4 linked regions of the Homo sapiens genome follow. The protein of the gene in region 3 interacts with the protein of the main gene of each other region in a pairwise test. Each region holds a gene or a part of one and is shown on either strand. Other genes may lie near its edges.

What was found.
Region 1: the proteins of CCDC136 (region 3) and ASB7 interact in binary tests that used the Homo sapiens proteins (3 or more experiments, as listed by UniProt).
Region 2: the proteins of CCDC136 (region 3) and FAM107A interact in binary tests that used the Homo sapiens proteins (3 or more experiments, as listed by UniProt).
Region 4: the proteins of CCDC136 (region 3) and ZSCAN26 interact in binary tests that used the Homo sapiens proteins (3 or more experiments, as listed by UniProt).

What each region holds. Positions count from the first base shown.
Region 1 is NC_000015.10:100,626,583-100,633,608, forward strand, and holds part of ASB7 (ankyrin repeat and SOCS box protein 7), read left to right. Parts: intron 1-2,854; coding exon 2,855-3,460; coding exon of another isoform or gene 3,461-3,468; exon of another isoform or gene 3,469-3,627; intron 3,628-7,026. UniProt on the Homo sapiens protein: Probable substrate-recognition component of a SCF-like ECS (Elongin-Cullin-SOCS-box protein) E3 ubiquitin-protein ligase complex which mediates the ubiquitination and subsequent proteasomal degradation of target proteins.
Region 2 is NC_000003.12:58,567,371-58,574,396, reverse strand, and holds part of FAM107A (actin-associated protein FAM107A), read left to right. Parts: exon of another isoform or gene 1-1,062; intron 1,063-1,606; exon of another isoform or gene 1,607-4,071; intron 4,072-4,531; coding exon of another isoform or gene 4,532-4,536; coding exon 4,537-4,706; intron 4,707-7,026. UniProt on the Homo sapiens protein: Stress-inducible actin-binding protein that plays a role in synaptic and cognitive functions by modulating actin filamentous (F-actin) dynamics. Mediates polymerization of globular actin to F-actin. Also binds to, stabilizes and bundles F-actin.
Region 3 is NC_000007.14:128,788,007-128,794,991, forward strand, and holds the start of CCDC136 (coiled-coil domain-containing protein 136), read left to right. Parts: upstream 1-3,961; 5' UTR 3,962-4,313; coding exon of another isoform or gene 4,314-4,405; coding exon 4,406-4,421; intron 4,422-6,341; coding exon 6,342-6,596; intron 6,597-6,687; coding exon 6,688-6,762; intron 6,763-6,985. UniProt on the Homo sapiens protein: May play a role in acrosome formation in spermatogenesis and in fertilization.
Region 4 is NC_000006.12:28,270,133-28,277,158, reverse strand, and holds part of ZSCAN26 (zinc finger and SCAN domain-containing protein 26), read right to left. Parts: intron 5,306-7,026; 5' UTR 5,240-5,305; coding exon 4,820-5,239; exon of another isoform or gene 4,490-4,819; coding exon 4,372-4,489; intron 1,029-4,371; coding exon of another isoform or gene 965-1,028; coding exon 63-964; 3' UTR 1-62. UniProt on the Homo sapiens protein: May be involved in transcriptional regulation.

The sequences.
Region 1 (7,026 bases), on a different chromosome or scaffold from region 3:
GAACCCAAGTGAGATGAAAACACTCTGTCCCCCTCTCCTTCTCTCTCTGTCTCTCTCTCTCTCTGTCTGTCTCTCTCTCATATATTAATTCATGATAGTGTTATTCAAATAGGCTCAAATTGGTAAGAACTGAAATGCCCATCTTCTCATCAATTGATTAAAAAAACTATATAGTATACAGTACTATCCAGCAATACAAAAGAGTGAACTGTCGATACAACATGGAAGTATGGCGGAAACATCATGCAAAGTGAAGTAAGTCAAACACAGAAGTCTACATATGATTCTATTAATATGAATTTCCAGAAATGACAAAACTTTTTTGACCAGTGGTTTGCCTGGGACCCAGAGTCTGGGAAGGGCTAAAGAGAGATGAAGGAACTTTTTGAGATGATGGAATGTTCTATATTTTAAATAGGGTGGTGGGTTATATACTCGTATACAGTTATCAAAGCTCATCATCTGTACCCTTAAAGTGAATGCATTTTACCTCAATAAAGCTGTTAGAAAAAAAAAAATCCCCTCATATTCATAGGTAATGTTTCTTTGCTTCTGTTTATATACATTAAATTTTTTTCTCGTAAATTTAAATGAACTTGTTGAGATTATGCTACAGCTTATTTAAAATAAGTTCCACCTGGGGAGAAAATGTTTGCTAAGGGGACAAAGTAATAAGTTCAGTGGGGTTGCTGTTTTAGATGAAATGTTTAGGGAAGGCTTTTCTTTTTTTGATAAAAGGACATTTGAGTGGATACAGAGTGACATGAGTTCACTTAATGTTTTCACGTCTTGTCCATTTCTTACTGAATTTCTGTCTAGGCGTTTTGTAGTTTATGTTGCTATTACAAATGAGATATTTTTCTTACCTTATTTCATGGGCTAATAATCTTTAAATTACATTTGTTTGCATTTTCATTGCTTCTAATCTCCCATTTGATTTTAACAGAGACTATGCAGGTCATTGTTGTGTGTGTTAATCTCTGTTTTTCCTTAGCTCAGTGTAGCTTCAAAATGTACATAGAACCTGAAAGAGACCTGAAATGGAAACCAAAGATGCAAGTGCAGTGTTTTGTAACATAATTTTAATTTTACTGTCAAATAGAACGAGTATAGGATACAAATAAGGATGGTGGCTGAAGGGTGGGAGAAGTGAAAAGAAGGTATTCTTAAATTTCACTTGCAGATTAAGAGGGAATGTCTGCCAGCAGTTGACTGGCCAGGTATAGATTAGAAATGACCTCTGGCAAGATGTTTTGTTTCATTTGAATGGGAGGGCATCTTGTAGATTTCACGCCTGACTTTGAACTTCTGGTAAGCGATGCACCTGGAACCGGCTTGAGTGACTTAAGGGCTCAGCAGTATCTGCCCGGTGGAAACATTAGTGTCATGCTCATGCCTTACCAGCAGATGGCAGCAAAATGCTGTGTTAAAATGTTCTTACCCTACTTAAATTTAAGTCCTGTGGTAAACAGATACTGTATATTTTTCTTTCAGTTAAGACCAAGGTAGATATAATGCCCTTATTTCCCCTAAATAGATACAACTAATACTACCATTGTGTACTGACACTTTACAGTAAATGTTTTTAGAAATCTACATGATATGGCTTACCTAAAAACATCTTATTTTGTATAGGTTTTGTTAGCAACTCCTTCACTGAAATACTTTCCACAGTATTGTTATTTTACATATAGTTTTCTGCCTCAGATTTTTCTAAGAGAACCATTTGTCATAATATGTTCTAGACCTAAATAACGTTTATTAAACAATACGTGAGTTTTCACTCACCTGTGGAGGCTGTGTGTGTGTATGTATGTGTAGGTGTGTGTGTAAAACATTAATGATTTTTTTCTTTTATTAACAAGCCAAAAATTAAGGTGACTTTTACAAGAGAGCATTTTCATCCTGGGTAGTTAGGTCTGATCAATTGATCTTTTACATGGAATTGCTGACTTCTAGGAGGTGCCCGGCATAACCAGTCCTCGTCCGTCTTCTGCCCCCAGCCAGGGATGCCATGGGGTGAACGCCATCAAGAACCAACCTTTGGCTTAATGAAAGATCTGAGGCCAGTGACAAAAGACTGTGACTTGAGTCACATAGCAGATAAATTATTATAGTTGTTTTTCCTTCCCCAGAGATCAGTCAATTAGGAGAGGTTTTTGGAACTGTTTTAGAAAATATTTTTACAATGCTGAGGTTATTCACATAATGCATTGCTTAATTCTTATAAACTCCAAAGTTCGTGTAAAACTAAGAATTCAGAATAGACTTCTATCTTGTGAAAAAACAATTTGTCAAGATTACTTGACATATATCTGAGATGCTTTGGAATTTTTACAGACCACAGAAAAACTTTTTTTTATTACTTAATATACCCTAAAACAACACGGTGTGCCAGAGCATAGTGTATCTGTAATTTAGAGCAGCAGATGTTGCTACACATGCTTCTCTTTAAGACCGAGAAGAAGCACAAGAGAAAATAAAACAAAAAGTTCAAAACAGAAGAGAAACATGAAACAGTGCAGAGATGAAGGAGTTGAGTAGCCAGAGGCAGTTGGTTAAATTAGCAAAGACAGGGGATGTGGTGATCTGTACTCCGTGTTTTTTGTGTATATCTTTTTAAACACTTTGTCTTTCTCCTTTCATTAACCCAGACGTGATAACATTCTACAAAATTTATTTTCCATTAAAACCAGACTTGAATTAAACTGAGGAAAAACGTACTTGATATTCATTACAGTGTTTGGTTGCTTCACATTTTATATGAGAATTGGCCACAGTTTGCTGTGCCATGGTAATGTTTGTTGTTTTGTCTTGGAGTCTGCTAATACTTTCATTTTGGTTTTAACTCCAGCTGATCCTACAGTTAAAGACTTAATCGGAGGCTTCACGGCTCTTCACTATGCAGCCATGCATGGCCGGGCCCGCATTGCACGCTTGATGTTAGAATCTGAATACAGGAGCGACATCATTAATGCAAAAAGCAATGACGGCTGGACTCCCCTCCATGTGGCTGCCCACTACGGCAGGGACTCATTTGTCCGGCTCCTCCTGGAGTTCAAGGCTGAGGTTGACCCACTCAGTGATAAAGGTACCACACCGCTTCAGCTCGCCATTATCCGAGAGAGGTCAAGCTGTGTGAAAATCCTCCTGGACCACAATGCCAACATCGACATTCAGAATGGTTTCCTGTTGCGATACGCCGTGATCAAAAGCAATCACTCTTATTGCCGAATGTTCCTTCAGAGAGGGGCAGACACAAACTTGGGTCGCTTAGAAGACGGACAGACTCCTTTACACTTATCTGCCCTTAGGGATGATGTGCTGTGTGCACGGATGTTATATAATTACGGAGCAGACACGAACACACGGAACTATGAAGGACAGACCCCATTGGCTGTTTCAATAAGTATTTCTGGAAGTAGTCGACCATGTTTGGATTTCTTACAAGAAGTCACAAGTATGTAATATAATTATTACTTTATTGCATTTTTTAAAAATTTGCATCTTCTGAGGAGCTTAATGTGTTTTTGCAACTTAAGATGACTAGATATTAATCATTCCTATAACCACTGCTTGGTAAGCGATGCCTCATTCTTCTGAAATAAAAAAAAAACTTTGACTGTATCACAAGATTTCATAAAAATTCAATTGTGTTTCTAAATGTAATAGGGGTAGACAGTAAGAGTGAGGGAAGGAATGGAGAGAAGGACAGAGAGGAGAATTTTTTTTAAATGAACAAAGATCTGTGTTAGAACAAGGCAATTCCTGTTGGTCATAAGGATAATCTTACCTGGCTTCCATTGACTGCAAGTTGAGGAGTTAGAGGGGGAATTTTGGATCTTAGATTCCTTACCTGTGAAAATATCCTAGAATTTGTGCTTTATTGCTAAGTTGTTCACGTTTTAATTGTGGCTTTTCTGCTTCATGAGAGCCCACATGAAATGGAGCAGTGGTGCTGTGTATTTAGGGATACCACTCGTGGAAGTTAAGGATGCTAGAAATTGTTGTAAGAAAATATTTGCAGTGGGAAGTTTGGCACCACTGTCCCTGGACCACATGGCTTCCATTGTATTTGAACGTTTTTGTGTGGGTGCTTTTTTTAAAGCCTGGAAGTGTCTGGCCCACTTTGTGTAGTAACGCGTGCGTCCTAGTTGTTCCTCTGATGGGGTATCAGCTTGTGTGTACTTAGCCATCCTCTCTTGTCAAGCTTCCACGTGACCAGTTGAATGTGTGTCTCATGCTTAATGTCCACCATGAAGCTAAAATCTGTAAACAAAATGGATTTTGCTGTCTGCTGAACTTTTTAATGAGTTCCTTTTTCCTCACTGGTTTTGAGCCTTCGGTCATTATTATACAAGAGGACATATTAACATCCTGGGTACCAGCTACTAGAGGGCAAGGGCTCTACCTGACCTGCTTGTAAGTAACCCACTCTACCCCTTGGAGCGGGCCTTTGGAGTACACATTTGCTTTATGAAGAAACAAAATGTAATTTGAATTTTGCAGATTCATGGAAGAAAAGATGCAATTATTATCACTAATGTTTTCAGACTAAAGCGTAAGAAAAAATCACACTGCTTAGTCTACTTAGTGCTGGCCAGTACCAGTTTCTGTGATGTTGGAAATGGTCTCTCCTTGCTGTCCAGTATAGTAGCCACTGGTCCCATGTGGCTGCTGAGCACCTATTAATGTGACCGTTGCCACTGAGGAACTGAAATTTCAATTTTATTTAATTGCGATTTAAGTTTAAATGGCCACAAGTGCCTGGTGGTTCCTTTGTTGGTCCACACAGATCTGCCTGCCTTGGGAGAGGTATCTGGGGCTGACTGGTGGGTGTTCCATTGCAGAAAGCTTCTGAGACACACAGAAGTCGCCACAGTTGGGAGACGTGATACCCGCAGTGCTGCAGTCCTGCTTGCCTTGTTGTTGTTCTCTCAACTTCTACATTAGAGACTTAGTTATGATGAGTGTGGCCGCCCTTAGGAAGGCATGTTATATACTCACTTAAATGCCTCAGCCCCCTTTTTTAAAATACTTTGTTCAGTGGTTAATGGCATAGACTAGAGCTAGACTGCAAGAGTTTGAGCCTTAACTCTATCCCATGTTAGCTGTGACCTTGGGCAGGTCGCCTAATCTCTCTGTGCCTTAGTGTCCTCACCTTCAAATTAAGATAATACAGGCTTGTTATGAGGATTAAATGAGTTAATATTTATAATGCACTTAACACTTAAAATGTTCTTGTTCTTTGTAATTGTTTTTCAAGGTGAAGTGTGTAACTAATAAAGTGAGGGGGGATTAACAGCGAGGACTGGCTTGCCACCAACAGAGCAAATCTTTAGATTCATATTCAACTCAAGCCTCCCAGTTTCAACCCTGTATACAACTGTCCAGAGTCTGTACATGGAGGCACGCAGCCACGTGGCCGAGAGGAGCCGCTGGGCAGGACAAGCACGTGGGCGGCTGCCGTGTGTCCCTGAGCCCTCAGAGCTGCCCCTAGCAGTGCTGTTGGACAGCAGGAATGTTGAGTTAAAGACTCACATGCACTTTAAAATTTGAGCAGATAGAAATGTCAGTGGGGACTGCCTCTGTCTGTGCTTAGGTTCTCCACTGTACGAGGAGCAGAGCTGTGCGCCTAGGAGGTCCTCAGTAGTCCTGGCAGTCTGGCTGACTGCGCACAGCGAGGGGTGGGGACTGAGGAAGCACAGGCTGCTTTCCTGAGTGCAGGGTCCTCCGTCTGTTAAGGCTCCAGTTGTCCTTTGTCTTCAGGTGCCTCAACATAATTTAGTATTTCTTGACTCTCCAGTGGTGTTTCCTGCCAAAAGCAAATTTGGTGTTTCTGCTTCACCTGTGTGTTCTTTGGCTCTAAATAGGTTTTCTTTTCCTGGTGAACAATATGGGCTAGAAGGAGCAGCTGTGGCTGATGCTCTGGACTGAGCTTTCTCATGAAAAGCAGCTTGAAAGAAGGTTGGTTGGTTCAGGGAGCACTAAATCAAAGCTGAGAGCTTCTTCTAGCCCGCGTGCTGTGGGCACCGCAGCCCCAGGCATCATGCTGTTGGCTTATGATTGGAGATCGCAGACTGCCGAGGTATAAGGACAGCAGAGGGGCCACATGGTGGTCTTCATTCAGGGACATTTTACTCTTCATCACACTGTTTTGCCTAGAAACAGATTATTTAAATTGGAAGAGACCAAAAAAATTATAATACCAGAATTTAAAAACTCCTCTGGCCTTTTGGAAAAATTGCCGTAAAAACTCTGATCTATATAGTGCAAAAAAAAAAAAAAAACAGAGCGCACCCGTGGCTTGGTAATAAACTAACATCTGCTTGTGACTTGTTAGTGCTGAGTAGGGGGAGAGGCCATGAAGAGCTGCTGTTGCTGTTCCCTACAGCCAGCCCGCTGTCCAGCATTCAGACCTCAGAACCTCCCCCTTCCAGGACGTCAGGAGCGCAGCAGGGCCCATCCATGGAGGAGCCACTTCTCTGTGCCCAGGAATGATAAACACAGCTAAGAGGAGCCATAGCACCTGCCTGAATAATGAGCGCCACCTGTGGGAGGAAAGCTGCGTCCTGCTTAGTTGGCAGTGTTTATAAGAAGCCAGTTTTTGGTTTTTTACTTGTAGCCAAAAAAAAAAAAAAAAGAATGGAATGAATAAATTAAAGAGAGAACAGTGAAGGTGTGACCGATGTCAAGTAGAAATGGTAGTGACGGCTGGGCGCAGTGGCTCATGCCTGTAATCCTAGCACTTTGGGAGGCTGAGGCGGGTGGGTCACCTGAGGTCAGGAGTTTGAGGCCAGCCTGGCCAACGTGGTGAAACCCCATCTCTACTAAAAATACAAAAATTAGCCGGGCATGGTGGCACATGCCTGTAATCCCAGTTACTTGGAAGGCTGAGGCAGGAGAATCGCTTGAACCCAGGAGGCAGAGGTTGCAGTGAGCCAAGATTGTGCTACTGCACTCCGGCCTGGGTGACAAGAGTGAAACTCTCTCAAGAAAAAAAAGAGGAAAGAGAGGAAAGGAAAG
Region 2 (7,026 bases), on a different chromosome or scaffold from region 3:
TGGCTGACTCTAGGAATCACCTAGGGAGCTTTTAAAAATCCCCAAAGCCAAGCCGCCCCCCAAACCCATTAAATCAGAATCCCTGTGGTGGGACTCAGGCACTGGAATTTTTGAAACTTCCTGTGGTGATGCCGATATGCAGCCAAAGTTAAGATCCACTGATTTAACCAGTGTGGTTTCTGAGGATGAGAAGGCTCCATCTAGGACTAGGAATGGGATTTATTAATAGTGATTGTTAATAGCAGCTAACAGGGTGGTCACACTGCCATTCCAGGGGCACCATTCACAGTTTAATCTATAGGAGTTGAGGACTTGCTGTGAGGTACCCAACCAGCCTGTTGTATGTGGCAGCCCTGGTAGCCAGCCCCAAGCGCTCAACTCTGTACGAGGCATTTGCCAAGCACCTTGCAAGTATCACCTCGTTTATGATATCACAAGTTCATGGAGGAGGATTCTAATGTAACGCTCATTTTGCAGAGGAGGAAACACCAGATCAAAAGCAGCTGTCCCATCTCAACTCTGCTGTTCAGTGGGAAACAGCCATAGACAATAAGTGGGCGTGGTGTGTCCCAGGGCTGTGGGATTTGGTCCAAAGGCTGTAGTTTCCAGGCTCCAGCTCCAGAGGGTAGGGAGGCATGGACAGAGCTGACATTCGAATGCAAGTCTGAATGGCTTCAGCCTCCCTATGCTACTGCTTCCTCCTGCATTTCTTTAACAGCCATGAAGAATACAAACAAGCCACTTACCTTTCTCCTTCGTGATTGGCCCGCTCCTCCTTCTCCCTGCTAGCTCTTCTCCTGGGTGTTCACCTTTTTCTTTCCAGAGAGGACATGTCTAATGCCCACTTCCCCTCTTAGCTGCTCCACAGCCACTCCCCGGATGGACCCCAGAGTCTTGGATCTCTCGGGATGCCCAGAAGCCTTGGGAACAACCCCAGTCCTCTGCCTCAGGAGGCCCAGCTGACCGCCCAAGACAGCCTGGATTTTCTTGGCCTGCCACCTGTGCTTTATTGAGTAGTCTCTTTTATAACAGGACCTGCATGAGGTTCTTCCACCCAGAGACCTTGGTTAAATAAATTAAAAGGCAGAAAGGCTGGCTCAGCTTTCTAAGTCCTGGGGGTCCCCAGCAACCCTCCTCACCCCACCCCTCATAGGTGTATACGTGGATCTCACAGGGGTTGTTTGCTGGGGTTCAGCACCCTGAGTGGCAAAGGCGATGGTTTTTCCCCTGCAGCTCTGAGCTAAGGCACCAGCCACATCCCTCAGGGTTCCTGCCTCACCCACCACACCAGCCTGGCCTCAGGGAAATACCATCATCCACAGCTCACTGCTGATTTAATTAATTTTTTTTTTAAGGCCTGGAGCAAGTCATTGAGCCAGGGCTGACCACAGATTGGAGCTGGGGTGCAGGACTGGCTTCATAATTGACAGGGCCCAGTGCAAAATAAAAAAGGAGTGCCACTTGTTCAAAATGCATTTGGAATTTCAAGACAACAACAACAGAAGGTCAAACCAAACAGGGCCCCTCTTCCAAGGGCAACCCTGTGTGACTGAGTCCGACCGTCTGGCCCTGGGGCAGCCAACCCACTGGCTGGCCGGCAACTTACGTATGGGGCGAAGGTCTCAGCCAGGTCAATCACAGATTTTTCCCCTGGAAGTTAACAGAAGAGACAGAGACCACCCATTGGAAGTGAAGGAAACCAAAGTCAAAACATCCCAAGGCCTCTGATGGTTTCCCCACACAGCAGCGAGAATAACCTTTTTATAACTGAATCAGGTGCGCCTTTCCCCGACTTGAACCCACCCGTCCACCCTCACTCCAGGCGCTCTCCCAGTCTCTCAGCTCACACCACTCCCAGCACACTATGTCTTTTTGTTCCCTGAACAGACCCAGCTTGTTCAAGGTACATGAGTCACACATGCTGTTCCCTAGGCCCCAAATGGCCTCCTTCCTCATTCTCAACTGTCAGATCTTAATGTCGCCTCCTCAGAGAGGCCCTCACCACACCTGGCTGACAGCGGGTCCCTCCTTAGTCTCTATGGGAGCCTGGAGCCTTTTGTGGTCTTTCGTTTTCATTGGCTTGTGTGTGTGCTGACTGTTGGCCTCCCCAGCAGAGTGTGGGTTCTGTGAGCGCCGGGATCTCACTTGTTTAGTTCTCCTCTGTGTGTCCAGTGTCTACCACAGTGCCAGGAAAATCACAGGAACTCGAACATGTGTGGAATGCATGACTATTTTTATTATTACGCACTTTCTCAGTGGTCATTCCCGTTACTCAGGAGCTCTTGATTTTGTGTACTTATTTTGTATCTGGCCACATTCTTGAACTCTCTCAGTTTCAAATGCGTTTCTGTTCATCCATGTGGGAATTCTGGGTGTATGGCTTTATCTATACAAATATTAAGGCTGCCATCTCCTTTCCTAAAGTTATCCAACTTATTCTATTTCCTACCTTATCACTTTGGCAACATACAGTGAGTTCTTTTAAGGATGGTGTGGCTGATGAAAAGCAAGCAGCTCTGGAAGATTTGGGGGGCACAGAGGGACTAAGAACAGGTGAATAGCTGGGGAGCCAAAGTAGTTATTAAAGTGTGGCATGAGCTGAACAGGAAGAGAGCTGAGGTCACGGGAAGGAAAGAGCGTAGCTGAGAATTACTCAGTCAAAGGATGGGCGACACTTGACAATAGGAATAGGCAGCAAAAGAGAGAAGATCTCAAAGCTCCAATCTGAATCCAGGTGTTCTAATACGTAAGCACCCAGAGAGCTTGATCCCACAGACAATAAAATACCCACACTAAGGAGTGGGAGCTGATACAGCCAACTATGTATTTTGTCGAGTGCCCATTTTAAAGTAACTCTAAGTACTATTATGATCACTTTTTAAGGACCAAAAAATTAGGAAGGATATAACCTGAAAGCAAACAGCCTTATGAAAAAGATGAGAAAAAAAGGGAAGTTAATAAGAATTCTCATTACAGAAATGGTTCTGAGAATATGAATTTGAGAAAAAAATTAACATGTCTATCCTCTGACACTTCACCTGGCTACATCCAAAATACCTTATAATAATTAACACTTTTTCCAGGTTACACAGCACCTTTACGTATGTGGTCTTACTTGCTCCTCCTAACAGCAGCCTGTGATGGGTCATCATAGAAATGCCAAACACGGGTCTGGTGGCCACCGTTGCAAAGTACAGTCTCCTGTTTTATGCCCAGATTCCTGACATATCACCTTGCAACGTGCACCCCGTCAAACCCCCCTCTCTGTATTTTCTGACCCCAATAAGCTGTTTGCCACTTTCAGGTTTTCACACATCCCTGTTCATCCATGAAACTGCATTTGGGCAGAGAATGGTTCTCATCCCCTTCCCAGTGTGGGGGAGGAAATGAGAGTCTGTCCACAGGCAACATGGTGGCCCTCAAGCAGGGGCTGAAGCCTGGTGTTTGAAATGGGGACACACTCCCTCAGTTGCCACATGAAAATCACATGCCACCGGGCACTGGTTCCCCAAGACCAAAGAAAACTTCAAAAGTTGCATTGGCAATTACCAACAAATGTGTATTGATCGCCTACTGCATACCAGACCAGACACTGCCAACTGTCAGGGCCTGGCATATAATAGGAGCTCAACCTCTGCAAAGCTAGACTCATGAAGAGAGCAGAGCTAAAGTCTAAATTTTCACTGAAATTCCTATAAGCAGCTAATGGCCAGGCAGTGTCTATACCTTTGAGGCCTTTTTTTTTTTAAGTCAGTCTCTTTCTCTCTCTCTCTCTCTCTCTCTCTCTCTCTCTCTCTCTCTCTCTCTCTCTCTGCTGTATTTGCTTTTGGGCATTTCAAGGATAAGGAGCCAGTTTGTAGAAGAGGGAGCCCTTGTGTCTGAATTTTAAGTAAACTGACAGATTTCAAACCGCTGTGGTAGAAGTGGGGCCATTGAGTAGCCAAACATTTGACAACTATCCCTTTGCTATTAGGGACACAGCAGTCTCTGAATTTCATGCTCTCCTCTTTGATGTGAAGAAAATGAAAAGCTGAACAGTTGTGGAACTGTGGATAGAGTTAGACAATAAGGGTAATACTTTCTTTTTATCACTGCATTTATCCAAATTGTTTTTAACAAGTACATGTTACTCTTTTTAAATATATTTTCCTTTTCTGTTACAAGCTCATTGAAAAACAGAAACTCAAACATAATTCCTTTTATAGTGGGCGAAAACTGTTGCAAAGCCAGGCCAAAAATATGCATGTGTCAACCCGTATTTTGTGACCCGTTATCATTTTACTTCTATACTCCAGACACATCGCAAACATCATCTCCAATTCTGACAGCCCTGTGCATGCGTTCCGTTATGATTTCCATTTTATAAGTGAAGAAACTAAGGCTCAGAAAGTCAGGTAGCTTGCCCAGGTATGCGCAGTAGCAGGTGGCCAAGGTCCATCTGACATGAAAACCTTGCCCTTCAACTGTGTCCCATGGGGCAGGGTGAGATTATAGGCTCAGCTCTGAGCTACTCCTCTGCCCATCTCTACAGCCGCCATGTACTCGGAGATCCAGAGGGAGCGGGCAGACATTGGGGGCCTGATGGCCCGGCCAGAATACAGAGAGTGGAATCCGGAGCTCATCAAGCCCAAGAAGCTGCTGAACCCCGTGAAGGCCTCTCGGAGTCACCAGGAGCTCCACCGGGAGCTGCTCATGAACCACAGAAGGTAGGGATGAAGCCCTGCTGCCTGGGCCCCGCAAGCACCTGGGCCTGTGGGGGATGGGGAAGGTGACCCTGGAGGAAAGCAGAGCTGGCTTTCATCCTGGGGCTCCTGGAGACTGAGGAAGGCTGAGGTGCCCCACATGATCACCGGCAAAACCTGTAAAGACCCTGTCCCCAGTGGGTCCCTGGGAACCAGAGGGACCAAAAAGCCCTGTTCTCTTGCCCAGCCACCCATTTCATGCCCACACTCCAGATACATTTACTGAGTACCTACTATGTGCTGGGCACTGAGCCCAGACCTGGGGATACAAGAATGAATGGGACCCAGTTCCTGTCCTCACAGACAGGGACGGGTGCATAGCCAGGCAGTAGGATGGGTGCATTGATGAGGGCATAAATAGGCCTGAGACCCCAGAGGAGGAACCCGAGAGGGGTCTAAAATGACTTCACAGGAGCGGTGCTGCCTCAGCTATGACCTGAAGGGGGACTGGAGTTAGCCAGGCCGGAGGTGGGTGCTGGATGGCAGAGGGAACCTCATATGTAAATGAACAGGAAACAGGAGTCACTCACTGTGCCTGGGGCATCGATTGCGTGGTGCAGGCCAGGGCAGAAGGATGGACTAAGGAAAGGTCTACAGCAGGGGCACAAGGTGTGGTGGGCCCGTCTGGTGAGGTGGGATGGGGGAGCTCACAATACCAAAGTGGGCAGGAATGTTACAGAGGCCCAGGATGGTGGCTGGCTTTTCCGTGGAAGGCCGTGGTGTGCAATGACAGAGACGAGCCAGAGGGGCATCTGGGAGGTGGCAGGGGTGGGATGGGGCAATTGATGGGATGTGAATTGGAGAAGAGGAAGGCTGAGCCTCCCCTTGGAGGACTGGGAAATACTCCTGCTAACCAGTAACAGCGTGAACGCAGCGGTGCCTTCAGAGCGCCCTCTGCTGGCCGATTCTGGTATTAGAGCCGGTTGTGATTTCTATTCTTGTTTTCAGTTGTGTGACCAATATCCTAACAGTTATCATTTTGTACACTGAGTCGCTTTTGTTTTTGTTTTCAATTAGTATTATAATATGAGCATTTTCTCTGAATGGTTTTTAGACTCGTCCCTTTAATATCAAAAAACATCACCACAATCAAAAACAAAAGCTTAAAGACAAATCAGAGAAAGTATTTGTAATATAAATAAATTTTATTTTTAAAACTCACATATACAAAAAAAAATTCAGATCTCTTGTTTTTTTTCTTTTTTTCTTTTTTTTTGTTTGAGATGAAGTCTCGCTCTGTCGCCCAGGCTGGAGTGCAGTGGCGCGACCTCAGCTCACTGCAAGCTCCACCTCCCAGGTTCATGCCATTCTCCTGCCTCAGCCTCCCAAGTAGCAGGGACTACAGGTGCCCGCCACCACACTCGGCTAATTCTTTTGTATTTCTAGTAGAGACAGGGTTTCACTGTGTTAGCCAGGATGGTCTCGGTCTCCTGACCTCGTGATCCGCCCTCCTCGGCCTCCCAAAGTGCTGGGATTACAGGCGTGAGCCACTGTGCCTGGCCCAGATCTCTTACAATGGACAAGGAAAAAATGAATAAAAAGTAATACAGTACAGCCAGACATGGTGGCTCACACCTGTAATCCCAACACTTTGGGAGGCCGAGGCAGGAGGATCACTTGATCCCAGGAGTTCAAGGCTGCAGTGAGCTATGATTGCACCACTGCACTCCAGCCTGGGCAACAGAGCAAGTCCTTGTCTGTAAAAATAATATTGATAATACAGTTAATTCACAAAAGAAGAAATGCAAATGGCTGGTAAACATATCAAATGTTGTTCCATGTGACTAATAAAGAAACAAATGAAAAGCAGATATTCTTTCTGGCCTACCAGATTCTCAAATATGAAAAGATTGGCTGGTGATGGTGGGGAGAAATAGATGCTCTTGTACACTGTTCAGAGGAGGATACACTGGATAACCTTTCTCAGGCACAGATAGATATATGTACCTCAAATCTTTTTAAAGAGCCTGACCCAGCAATTCTACCTTTAGGAAAGTATCCTAAGAAAATAACCAGAAATAACATAAAACTTGGTCTCTGCAGTCAAACAGGCCTGGGTTCAAATCCTCATGTGGCCTACCTGTAGCTATGTCTTGGACTGGTATCTTCAGCCCTAGGAGCCTCAGTTTCTGTCCCTGTAAAATGGGACAGTAATGGGTCCACCTCCAAGGCTACAGGGAGGATTGCACAAGATAATAATGGGGGTTGGTGTCACCGCAGGAAGCAGCCCTGAGGCTGGGGGAAGCGGGAAGGTGATGGTCTCCTGACAGCTCCCCACTTCCCA
Region 3 (6,985 bases):
ATGACCCAGAAATTCCACTTCTAGGTATCCATCCTAGGAGAATGCATGAAATTGTCAAGTGCAGCACTGTTTTTAATATGGAAAACTGGAAACAGTCAAAATGTCAATCAGCCGAAAAATGGATAAATTGCAGTGAATTCAAGCAATGAAAGAGTTTTCAGTAGTTAAAATTCATAAACTGGAGCTATATGAAACAACATGGATAAATGCAAAAAAAAAAAAAAACAAAAAAAGTTTGCAGAAAAATGTGTACAATATAACACTATTTACATAAATTTCTAAAACACACAAGTCGCAATTATGTATTGTTGGTAGACACATTCATAAAAGGTAAAACATACATACAGGTAAAACTGGAAAACCATAAATAGAGGGCTACCTTGAATCAAATGTGGCAAGATCTGACTGGTTGTAGGATTTCAGTTCTGTGTGCATGGTTATTTGTTACGTTATTCTCTGTACCATACTTTTCTGCATGTTTCAAATACTCATATTTTTTTTCTTTTTAATGAAAGGATCTAGGCATTTAGAAATAAGGGTAAAGGGGGATAAATGGCTACATCAGTCCTCAAAGAGGATGATCTCCTGGGATGGGATTAGGAGGGAGGCTGAGCCCTGAGTCCAGGGATTACAGGGATTAATTCAGATCATCCCCCTAGGTTGATCACCTGGCTGACATGCCCACCACTCCTGGCCCCTCAGAGATGCATTTCTGGACCACAGCCCACCTCCCTCATATCTCTTAAGCTCTTTTCTCCCGCCTTTTAACTGCCTCCCTCCGCCCTCAACCCAGTACTGGTCTGGCCAGGGTTTGACCAAGTTTGGCTCCTGAAAATAGACTGGTTCAGGTCTCTCTTAAATGTTCTCCCAAATCAAGGGTGAAAGGTGACCTGCATGCCAGGAGCCAGGGAGAGATTAGTCCTAATACTCAGGATCAGAGCTCCCTGAGGAGAGCTTGAACCCTGGATGTCACCATCGACAATTTCCCTGCTGTGCCTCCCTACATTCACCAAGAGGTCAGCAGTCAAGGCCAACCGCTAACGTGGCCCTGCTGGCGGAGGCAGAACCAGGAGGAGCTGCGCTGGGCAGAAAGAACAGCCAGTAAGCTTCCAGAACTAGTCTTTGCCAGTTCCCAGAGCACTGCATCCCTCAAGCCCCCAGTGCAGCCCCTTTCTACCACCCCTGACAAATGCTCTGCTCCCCAAATCTGGACAGGCTTGGCGTCTGCAGTAAACCCTCTGCAGAAGGGGTCTGGGTGGGCTTGTTCAACTTTCCCCACAACTGTGTCACCTTGGCCACAGGATCTGGAGTAGAATCTTGTCATCTGGGAGCAAAGAAAACATTCTTGATCTCTGCTCATCATCTCTCTGCTGAGATAATGAGAGAGGCAGAGGAAGAAAAAAGGAGCAAGGAGTTGGGGGAGGGAGAGAGACTTATGGGCAACATCATCATTAATAGGCAACATTTAACACCACAAATATGAAATCATGTTAAATGATAAGACAGGGCATTAACTGGGTAGCTGGGAGATTGACCTTTAACTCATTTATCCTGTGTCAGAAACTCTGTCAGATGCTGGAAATACAAAGATAACTAAGATCCCCCTAACCTTCAGGAAACTGGGCAGAGCCCGGACAACCCGGAGGGCCTGGTGCTGTTACAGACAAATAGGGGCGAGCACCACAAAAGCGCCTAGTGGGGCAGGGATGGGGTGCCAGTCAGAGAAGGCCACCTGGAGGTGACCCCCAGCTGAAAAGGAGGGGGAAGTCCAGGCAAAGAAGGGCTTCCTTCCCGTGGAACAGGGATGGCTTGTGGACGTGGGAGCCTGTGGGATGTCAGAGACATTTGAGCCAGAGCAACTCCATCTTGAATAGAAGCTGGGTAAAATGAGGCTGAGACCTACTGGGCTGCATTCCCAGACGTTTAAGGAATTCTAAGTCACAGGATGAGATAGGAGGTTGGCACAAGACACAGGTCATAAAGACCTTGCTGATAAAACACCTTGCAGTAAAGAAGCCGGCCAAAACCCACTAAAACCAAGATGGCAGTGAGAGTGACCTCTAGTAATCCTCACACTGTTACACTCCCACCAGTGCCATGACAGTTTACAAATGCCATGGCAACATCAGAAAGTTACCCTACATTGTCTGAAAGGGGGTGTCAGGAATAAACCACCCCTTGTTTAGCATATCATCAAGAAATAACCAAAAAAAGCAGCCCTTGGGGCTGCTCTGTCTATGGAGTAGCCATTCTTTATTCCTTTACTTTCCTAATAAACTTGCTTTTAGTTTATCCTATGGACCTCCCTGAATTCTTTCTTGCGTGAGATTCAAGAACCCTCTGTTGCGGTCTGGATCCGGATCCCTTTCCTGCAGCGGGGGGAACGCAGACAATACTAGCCCTCGACCTGTGAGTGGATGTGCCAGAGAGGGGATCCGCGTGTGTCCCTGGCTTAGGAATCTTCCAGCCATTTCCTGGATGTGCTGGGGAGCCCCTGTTCCCAACTGTGCCCACTTCTATCCTTGCCGAGACCTGCCGAGATGTGAGAACTGCCTCTTCAAGAGCCGGCACCCAGTAGTCATAGCCTGAATAAACGAATGGTTGAAGACGTGAAATAAGCCCCCTGGGCTTCCAAATCTCCCTTCCACGAGAGTGAACATCAGTCGTGCCCACTCTGAGCGGGCTACTGTGGGGGCGTGGCTCGCAGCCCACCGGGTGTGGGACCGGAAGGGAAGACAGGGCGGAGGAGAGGGGGTCTTCCGGCCCTGAGGCTTGATGGGGCCACCGGAGGGCTCCTCCTAAGAGGGTCCTTGGCCCTGGCTCGGTGGGGGGTCGCGGAAAGCGGAGAGGTCAGGGCCCTGCCGTTCGCCCATCCGGGCCTCGACTTCCCTCCTCCGGCCCCCAGGCTGCCGAGGGGCCACCGGGCAGGGGTGGGCAGGGCCTGGGGCCGGAGTCAGCGCGGACTGCTAGGTGGGGGCGCCGGCCGGGCGGGGGAGGGAGGGAAGGAGGGGCGCGCGTGTCTGCGCTTTTGGAGGAAACAGTCCCACCTCGTCCTTTGCCGTCCCCATTGCTGAGCATGACCGGGCCCTGACACCTGGTGCAGAAGGGTCCCTGGGCACAGCAGACCCCGGGGGGACCCGCCGCCAGAACCAGGGGATCTCGCTCCTCCCTCTTGGGGCAGCCATAAGCCTAGGAGCTCCTGACGCTGTCCGGGCCCCGCGGCTCCCCGCGCTCTCTAGGGGAGAGCCTTGGGGCGTATCCGGGGTCGCGCTCACCCTCCCGCGCCGCCCCCTGCACGGGCTCGGAGCTCCCGAGTGCTGGGAGGGCTTCCGGGCGGCGGCGAGCGGCGGGGGGCGGTGTCAGGAGGCCCGGCCAGGCCCCGCCCCCTCGTCCGCCCTCCCTCCCTCCCTGCGCACCCGGCTCGGGTCCCCGGGCTCGCGGCTGCGGCTTCTGCTCAGGGAGGCGGAAGGCGGCGGCGGGAGCGGTCATGGAGGCGGGCGCCGGAGCCGGCGCGGGAGCCGCGGGCTGGAGCTGCCCGGGCCCAGGTCAGAGCCGCCCCTCCGTCACCTGTCTACCGCCCCTCCTTTCTCTCCTCCATCCCTCCTCCTTCCAGACCCCCAGGTGCTCCCGGCCTCCGCGGCTCCCCTTTCTCCGCCCAAAGTCTTCCTCCCTCCATCCTGGCCTCCACCGGGGCCCGGTCTCCATCCTTCCGGCCTGGGACTGAGGCTTCCGCGCACCGGCCGCATCCTGCCTGGTGGTCCCTCCCCAGCGCGTCTCTCCACTTCAGTCCGACGGTGCTTCCAGCCTTCGGGACTGCAGACCCTACACCTCCTGCAGCCCCGGAGACTCCTGAGCGCGGGGCGAGGGTGGGGTGGGCAAGGTCCAGCGAGAGAATGGGAGGAGAGGGGAGGGGAGCGGTCGCAGCCCTACCCCTTCCCGCACGCCCCCCACTCCTCCCTCCCTCCATCTGTAGGCCACCTCAGCCTTTCAGCCTCTTCTTCACTGGCTCCCGCCCTCTTTCAGTCTTGGCCCTCTCCTCCCTGTCCCCCCGGACTAAATACGCACACCCCCTCTTTCTTTCTGTGCAAGCAAGAGGGTCCTGGAACAGCGGGTTCTGAGGAGGCTGGGAGGCAGGGCTGAGAGGTGGCCGAGAGAGAGGAGTCGCAGAGCCGCCAGAGTGAGTCAGGCACCTCCACTGGGATTACAGATCCCAGAGCCTCGAGGAGCTGGAAGACATGTCCCCTTCTTTCCTCTGCACCCCAGCCCGCAGCCAGCCCCCCACCCCCCAGCCCCTCCTTTCTCCCTGCTCTCAGGACCCACAGTGACCACTCTAGGCTCCTATGAGGCTTCCGAGGGCTGTGAGAGGAAGAAGGGCCAACGCTGGGGGTCCCTGGAACGACGGGGGATGCAAGCTATGGAGGGTGAGTTTTCCCAAAAGGCTTCTTTCTTTCCCCTCCCCTCCTCCCTTAATTCCCTTCTTTCCTCCCTCTGACCCCCAGGCCTCTGAGCCAGGACACAGCCCTTCCCTCAGTTCATCTTAGCCCCTCTTCCTGCAGCTCAGAGCTCCAGCCCTTCCCAGGGCTCAGGCTTTGACAGAAGTTCAGGATGCATCCCTTCGGGACCCCAATCACCCCCCAGCTAACCAGGTTATGTGTCCCGAGGGAGCTGCCAGACAGAGAAAGAGGCCTTGTTGGACAGAGCTTTGAAGCAGCCTTTCAGCAGGGGGTTTGTCCTCACTGCCTGCCGACCCAGATCCCAAGCTGTCTCTTATTTTAAAAAGCAAGGAACTGGGCATGTGAATTGTCTTTCTGGGGCCACCAACATTAACTTCGAATGGAAGCCTGTGGCTTTGGTTCTTTAGGATACCTTATTGCCTGAAAGAGAGAGCCTAGGAGGGGGCGCGTGAGGCCATCCTCCCAACACACGTGTATCCCCACCACACCCATGTGACTTGGCAGTTGCTGCCAACACCAGGCCCCTGGAAGGACGCTGGTCCATTTGCCAGTACTTCCTGTGAAGTGTTGCACGTTGCACATTCAGTATGGGCAAACCTGCTCCCCCTAAGGGGGACAGATGGCACGAAGGGTCCCAGTTGAACCTAAGGCTGCTGATATTAGATAAAGTAAGACCAGAGATTCAGAATTTTAAAACAAAGCAAACAATCACCATCCAGACAACATTTTGCTATTTATAGGGACTGCGTTGCAGTAAAGGAGCGGGTGCTCACAACCAGAGGCTGGGGGCCAGCACCAAACCCCAGTTTTTTTAATGCATTAAAATGGTAGGCTTTCTTTTACACACAAGTACAGCCTAAAACTTCCCCTGAAATCTACTTTGTGGTCAGCAGAGTAGGAGGGGCCTCATATGGCTCAGCTAGGGGAGAGGAGACCTTGTGACATGCAGCAGGGAAAAACAAGGTGGACCTTGTAGAAAATTTCAAACAGGTATTTAATAATATACATTTGAAAGGGCGCCCGAGTTTGTCCAATGAAACCTCTACAATCAGATATTTTCTTTCTCTACCTGCTGACGGGCAATGTTTTCTTATTATGGAAAGGCTGATTTTTCACAAGCCACCTGGATAGTTTTTGTTTGGTTGTTTTTGTTTGTTTGTTTGTTTGAGACGGAGACTCACTCTGTTGCCCAGGCTGGAGTGCCAGTGGCTCGATCTCGCCTCACTGCAACCTCCAGTTCCCAGGTTCAAGCGATTCTCCTGCCTTAGCCTCCCAAGTAGCTGGGATTACAGGCGTGTACTACCACGCCCAGCTAATTTTTTTGTATTTTTAGTAGAGAAGGGGTTTCACCATGTTGACCGGGCTGGTTTGGAACTCCTGGCCTCAAGTAATCCACCCACCTCAGCCTCCCAAAGTGCTAGGATTACAGGCATGAGCCAGCATGCCTGGTCAGTTTTGTTTTGTTTTTTAACTTTCAAGAAATCTCCAAACTGTAACTGTTACCCCATTTGACCGAAAGATCCGCTCACTGTCTCCTTTCTTGACTACTTGTCCTGCTACTCAGAGGCCAGCCTAGAAGAAGCAGGTAATCCTGTGCAAGTGTCTCATGGCTGAGCGGGCACCAGCCTGCCCACAGGCAGTGATAGGAGGCTACCAAGTGCAACATTGGTCCAGGAAGGGCCTGGGAGGTGGAGGGGCTGCTTCTCAACTTGACTCTCACACCTGAGGACTCATCTTGAGTACAGGTCTTGCCCCGGGGCTCCTTGGGGGACACCAGGTGGCACTAGTATGTCATCTCTGCCCTGGCATAGTGAGTTTGAGGGCCCTGGAAGGACGGCAGAAAGGAAGTTGATGCTGACTCCTTGGTGGGATGGCTGTGTCTCCTAGGGGAGGTGTTACTCCCAGCTCTCTATGAGGAGGAAGAGGAAGAGGAAGAGGAGGAAGAAGAGGTGGAAGAAGAAGAAGAACAAGTGCAGAAAGGTGGCAGTGTTGGCTCTCTGTCAGTCAACAAGCACCGGGGACTGAGCCTCACGGAGACAGAGCTGGAGGAGCTGCGGGCTCAGGTGCTGCAGCTGGTGGCAGAACTGGAGGAGACCCGGGAACTGGCAGGGCAGCATGAGGATGACTCCTTGGAGCTACAGGGTGAGTGCCTGGGCCAGGGCCCAGTGCCCGGGCCCAGAGGCTCTGCACTCCCCTGGATCCGAGCTTGACACTGGTGCCCCTCTCCCTGCAGGGCTCCTGGAGGATGAACGGCTAGCCAGCGCCCAGCAGGCAGAGGTGTTCACCAAGCAGATCCAGCAGCTCCAAGGTAATTCCCAGGACTTGGACTGGAGGGAGGTGGCCATCCAAGTGGTCACCTAAGTACTTTTTTCCTGAGGGTTTGACTGAAGCACAGCAGATAAAAATAACCAAATTCAGTAATTTCACCTCATTTTCCTCTACTAGTCTCACCCTTTTCCTCTCCTTGTCTCTCCATCCTCCTCTGTCCCCAGTTTTCTTTCTTTGCACATCTACCTGGCTCTTCTGTCCTC
Region 4 (7,026 bases), on a different chromosome or scaffold from region 3:
CTAAAGTGCTGTTTGCTAGTCAATGTGCCTTCTCTGATGTTCTACAAGGAGAGAACACCTCATCAAGCCAGTTTGTCTTTGTGGTGATATCTCTGATGTTGAAAAAGACCTGACCTTTGCCTGAAGGCTTCTCCACATTCACTACACTGATAGGGTTTTTCTTCATTGTGGATTCTTACATGCTGAGCAAGGTGTGAGTTTAGTCGGAAGGCTTTCTGGCATATGTTACACTTGAAAGGTTTTTCTCCAGTATGAATTCTGTGGTGTCGAATAAGGTCTGAGGTCAAACTGAAAGCTTTTCCACACTCGTTACATTGATGGCTTTTGGAGTGACTATGGATTCTCTGATGGTGGGTGAGGAGTAAGGCCTGACTAAAGGTTTTTCCACACTCCTTGCACTCACAGGGCTCCTCCTGACTGTGAATTCTCTGATGTCGATTAAGGTGAGAGCTGCGCCTAAAATTTTTTCCACAATGGATACATAGATAAGGTTTCTCTCCAGTATGAATTCTGAGATGTTCCAAAAGGCCTGCATTCTGGCTAAAGACTTTGCCACACTCATTGCACTGATAAGGCTTCTCACCAAGATGGATTTTCTGATGTCTGACGAGGTGTGAACTCCTCTGAAAGGCTTTCCCACACTCATGACACTGATGACCTTTCTCTCTAGAGAGGACTTTCTTATGTCCTGTAAGACTGGAACTCTGACACACATCAGACTCGCAGAGTTTCTTTCCCGTGTGTGTACTCGCATGTTCAATCAGGTCCAAGTGCTGGATGAATCTCTGCTCACGTTCTGAGCATTTATACTCAATCTTCTCTTTGGGCTTGGCCTGATGCCTTTCCAAGTTAGAGCCCTCATTATGAGCCTCCATGGGTTCAGATATTTTCCCAGATGACTCTACTCTTCCACAAGAGTCTGTTACTACAATAAGCTTCCCATTCTCAATCCTTGTCTCCTCACCTGCAATATTAAATATATACCACCAATTACTTGTCTTTTGATGCTTGGGGAAAGGAATCTGCAACTAAAAGGAAAAAAAAATATAATGAAGCCATGTGTGCAAAGTAAAAACATTGTGGATGCTTGTGATTGCGTAAAATAGTTACAGAATGGTACACAAGACATTGTTAACTGTGACTGTCTTTGGGGAAAGATGGGGAATTCTGGTGGGAGGTGACTTATTTTAAATAGTTTAAATTTTATCATGGGATACCACACACAGAGAAGCTAGCAAGCAAGCAAATAAACTGTCTTAAAGGGCATGGCTGTACAGTCTTGAAGATAACTTGTCACATGGAAAATAAAAAAAGCTAGGTTAATTGAGGCCCCCAGGGCCCATAAGAAAGGGACGACATTTTAACTGAAAATGAAGAAATGTAGATGTGGTGCCCAATTTTATCACTAACTGTGTAATCTTAAAAAAGTAAGGTAAATCATCTGGGCTCTGTGTCCTCATCCATAAAGAAAGAATAATGTACTATAAGACCTTGACAATAACATGAAGTTCACAAAAATGCCTTCGCCTTTCCTAATCTCCTTGGACAGCAGTAACTGCTCTCCTGTGTGGTTCAACAGAGCTTTAATCTCAACGCTATGATAATTTATTCATGTCTGTCGCTCCCTGCACCCCTGATGCACAATGCCCCAAGAGACTGTAAGCACATGCAGAGCAGACTTTGTTTTCTCTAGCACAGAGCCTGGTACATAACAGACATTAAACAAATGTTTACTAAATAAATGGCCTGTGTCCTAAGGGTGAAATTAAATGAAAATAGAGAAAACTTAAGCTCAGATACACAAGCAGACGGGTGAGAAGAATGTGAAGTTTTTGTTTTGTTTCATTTTATATTTTTATTTACCAGTTTTTCTTGTAGCTAAGGATAACTCTTCAAAGGCTAGGAGCATGACTGGGGATGCAAAGTCAGAATGAGAGAGTAAAAGGAAAGCTGGATGGAGAAAATAGAAGAAAGACTCTAAGCAGCACTAATAACAAACAAAAGAGGGTTAATCAGTGTGAGCAAGTTAATTCAGCAGATAAGTAAAAAGGAAAGAGTGGATGACAGCTGAAAGGAAAAGTGAAAGTGAAGGAATTAGTAAGGAGACATCAGAGAAAGGAAGGTCACAGGTGGGGAGTGAATAAATTAAATAATGTAATAATGTACTGTGTACAAAGACCCTCTACAACAGAATGAAGTATTCAGTCCTACACAGGGGCAGGGGGCAAGAGTGAGAGATTAAGGGAAAGGAATAAGACTCTTCCAGTAATGACATAATCACATATACAACTTTAAAAAAGCAAGAGAGGATGAAACCAAAAAACAACCTGAACTTTGAATATAAAATAACATTTTTAACAGATCCAGAGGGTAAGGGACATTTTCAAGAGTCTACTGACATTACATTCACTTTTTTTGAGACATGGTCTTGCTCTGTTGCCAACGCTGGAGTACAGTGGTGCAATCACATAGCTCACTGCAGTCTTGAACTCCTGGGCTCAAGCAATCCTCTTGCCTCAGCCTCCCAAGTGGCTAGAACTACAGCTGCATGCCACCACGCCTAGCTATTTATTTATTTTTTGTAGAGGACAGGGTTTCACTATGTTGCCCAGGCTGGTCTCAAACATCTGGCTTCAAGCAATCCTCCCACTCTGGCTTCCCAAAGTAGTGGGATTACAGCAGCCACATTTACTTTTTGTATTTAAACTATACACCCATCACTGATTACATGGTAATCATTTCTGCAAGGCTAATTCATTTCTGCAAGGCTATTGAGAAAAGGTAGGCCCCTTTCTTTCAGCTACTTTATTCAGGATGCTCCCAGAAGAAAGGTAATTTGAAGCTGACTTGGAAATTGAACAGAGGAATAGGTAGCATGTAAAGCATGATTTTACATATAAAACCAGTCATTCATCAAACAGACATTTATTGAGGGTCTACACTAGGCCAGGGACTGTAGCTGACTCAGAAAACAAAACAAAACCCCTTCCCTTTTAGTCTGGCAAGAGAAAAAGAGAAGCAAACTAGAAACTGCAATATAATGTAATTAGTTCTATGACAGAAAAAAAAAAGAAGAAATGAAAAAATGTAAGGAGCAAAAATTAGGAAGAAGAATTTCAGTGACAAAGAAAATAAAGGAGGCTGGGCGAGTGGCTTGCACCTATAATGCCAGCACTGTGAGAGGCCCAAATGGGAGAAATGCTTAAGACCAGGAGTTCGAGACCAGCCAGGGCAACAGAGGGAGACCCTGTCTCTACAAATAATAATAATAAAAAGCCAGGTGTGGTGGCACACACACCGGTAGTCCCAGATACTTGGGAGGCTGAGGTGGGAGGATCACTTGAGCCTGGAAGGTCAAGGCTGTAGTGAGCTATGACTGCACCATTGTACTCCAGCCTGAAGACAGAGCAAGACCCTGTCTCAATAGAAAAACAACAAAAAAGAAAGTATAGAACCAAAAAAAAAAAAAAATCCAGGTGACGTTTAGAAATGAAAGATAGTGGCCATTTACAATAATTTGAAGGAAATGTTAAAAAATGAGTAATGAAGCATGTGGCTTTCTTTGCCTTGATTAAGAAACTAGCAGTACTTGTTTTTTTTTTTGTTTGTTTGTTTTTTGAGACAGAGTCTTGCTGTGTCGCCCAGGCTGAAGTGTAGTGGCGTGATCTCAGCTCACTGCAATCTCAGCCTCCTGGATTCAAGCAGTTCTCTGCCTCAGCCTCCCGAGTAGCTGGGATTACAGGCACCCGCCACCAAACCTGGCTAATTTTTGTATTTTTAGTAGAGACAGTGTTTCACCATCTTGGCCAGGCTGGTCTTGAACTCCTGACCTCGTATACCTACCCACCTTGGCCCCCCAAAGTGTTGGGTTTACAGGCATGAGCCACCATGCCTGGCCACTATTTGCTTTTTTAAGAGATGTTGCCCAGACTGAAGTGCAGTGCAACAATCATTGCTCACTGCAGCCTTGAACTGGGCTCAAGTGATCCTTCTCCCTTAGCTTCCCAAGTAGCTGGCCTGGCACTGCTTTTTTTATTCACCCCTACAGTAAGAGGAAGAAGAGCAAGGTGAAGGTCCAGGTTCCCTTTGTACCCTTTTCTTGCTATTTTGTTCAGCTAAAATATTTGGGGTGATAGATATCTCTTATCTCTTGATAGTGGTCCTGATTAGACCACAATTATTTCGCATTTGTGAAAACTCATTGACCTGTACATCTAAAAAGAGTGAATTTTACTACATATAAATTATGCTTCAGTAAACCTGACTCAAAACAAAAGCAAAAAACAAAATACAAGGGTGCTAAGCACAACCTCAGAGGGAAAGGCACAGTCCACCACGTCTCACACACAGAAGATGCAATCCAATTCTTACCCTTCTCTTTCTCAGGCTTTGTAACTTCACACTCATGCCGAACCTGCTGTTCCTGTACTCCTTTCAGAGGGGCCATCTCCTCCACAAGTATTTTTTGTTTCTTTGGCTGGTCTGGGTCCTAGGGACAATTAGGTATATGGAGGCATAATTAGATATATGTGGGTTTAGGAAACTGCTGTTCAGTAAAACACCTAGGTGTTAAAAAAGAGAAGAAAGAGAAACCCCAGAGGGGCAAAGAAAAGAAGATGGGGAATCTGGTGCACATTCAGTTTTCTCCAAGCAAGGGCCAGGTAAGGTTGAGGTAAGACCTAAGGAAATTAACAGCTAGACTGGAAAAAAACTGAATCAAAGCTTAGTAATTCTCCTTCCGCTGATGAGCCCATGTCCACCTGTCTGGCCAGAGATCTCAATTCCTGCATTCCTGAAAAAGAGCACATCTGACCCTTACCACCTGTTGTCCTGTTTCTCCAAGATCCAGCTGCAAATCCTCCAGAACAACAACCACGTCCTCCCTGCTCTCTGGGTGATGCTCCTGCACCCGGGCCTGGAGCTCCTTAGGCAGGATGATCAGAAACTGCTCCAGCACCAGCAGCTCCAGGATCTGCTCCTTGGTATGGGTCTCGGGCTGTAGCCACTGTTGACAGAGCTCCCGGAGCCGACTTAGTGCTTCTCGAGGTCCTGTGGTCTCTTCATAACGCAACTGCCTGAATTGTTTGCACAATGGCTCCTGTCCAAGGCCTTTACTGTTTCCTTGCAGCTTGAATCCCTGTTCCCAAGTAGAGTAGTGATCCTCCCTCACTACCCGAAGCCCCTCCTTCTTCAGATTCAGGGGAGCCAGGGAATGGGCACTCACCAATGCTGTTGCCATCCCCAGCTTCAGACTGTTCTCCTTGTTTTGGAGAACTTTCTTTGGACTGTATCTTCAGAGACACTCCTAAAATTATAGTAACAAGAGTGACAGAAACAGTAATAGTACTGCTAACAAGAACAGTAACATTTTCTTGGGTTTATACATTTCCTATTATCCATTTTTTCTCTCTAAAACAACCATTTCTAAACATACATACAGAAGGAAAAAACTATCTTACAGAATACCATCTAATGTAGAAGGAATAATAGATTTGAAAAATCACCATTTTGTAGCCCTCAAAATAACTGAGGCTAGGCACTGTGGCTTACACTTGTCATCTCAGCACTTTGGGAGGCTGAGGTGGGAAGACTGCTTAAGCCCAGGAGTTTGAGTCCAGCCTGGGCAACATAGTGACACCAGGCATGGTGGCACATGCCTGTAATCCAAGCTACTCGGGAGGCTGAGGAGGGAGAACTGCTTGAGCCCAGGAGTCTGAGTTCAGCCTGGGCAACCAGAGCAAGACCTATATCAAAAAAGGAAGAAAAGAGAGAAAAAGAATGAAAGAAAGAAAGAAAAAGAAAAGAAAAAAGACAAGTGAAAGACAAGGAAATAGAGAAAGTTTTTTCAGACAAAAAAGACACCATAAAGCTGTTGGATGTTCAGTGTAGTAGTTAGTTATGGCTGGGAAAACGTTATATGGAGCCGGAATCCTGGGAAACATCTACATGTAAGAAACAGAAGTGAGATGGAACTGGAAAGGTAGGAGGAGAAAAAAGACAATAGTATCCAGAAGGTCAAGGAGGTCTATTTCTGTAAATGTGGAATGGTGGAAAGACCCTGGGCCTTAGACAGGCCTGGGTTCCAATCCAGCCCTGTCACTTACATGTTGTGACCTGGGGCAAGTAACTTATCCTTTTGGACTTAGTTTACTCATTTGTAAAATGAAGATAATACCTAATTCACAGAAGTTTTGAGGTAAATGAGATAATTCTAAAGAACAGAAGGAATTCACTGATTTATAAGGGAAATGATATGAGCACAGTGTTCAAGAGTGTGAAATGCTATAAGATGGTGAATTAATCTAAGACCTGGCATAGACACTTGATTCAAAAACAAAGATGTCATTAGTGACCTCTGTGAAGGTAATTTTGGTAGTGAGAATAGCTAGCCTGCCATAGGAAATGAGAAAATGGAGAGTGAGCATAAATGACAAATTTCAAAAAAGTAATACATTGAATGGAACAAGAAAGATAGGGCAGAAACTAGAAAGGGCTAATGTAGAGTATAAGTATTTTTGTGACTTCAATTACTGTCCTTATGCTGATGATTTCCTTATTCTTCAGGTCAGATATCTCAAGTGTCAGACCTGAATTTCCTTCTGCCTATTTGGGACCAGGATACCCTACAGAAGCCTCTCAAATCCAACATGTCAAAAATGAACTCAGACAATTCCCTACCATCCTTTGGGGCAGGCCCTTGGTATGTGGGGATTTAGCATTCTTGATTTTGACTATGCTTGAGTATCCCTATAGATCAGTGAAACACCATCTGTCAGCTGCTGACACATGCCTTTGAATCAATGTGCATGCGGTAAGTGGGAGAACGGGAGAAGGCTCACTTAATCAGTGGCTTAGCCTCCAAACAGTTTGCTGTTATATATTCCTGAATGTGTATATAGTTAACATTTCCCAGCTGATAATTATTTTTCTTAGTCAAAATGAACTTAAACTTTAAAAAGCCAATTCCTAGTATTCTTAATATAAGTAAAAAAGTCCAAGAAAGTGATGATTATCAGTGAAACCCCG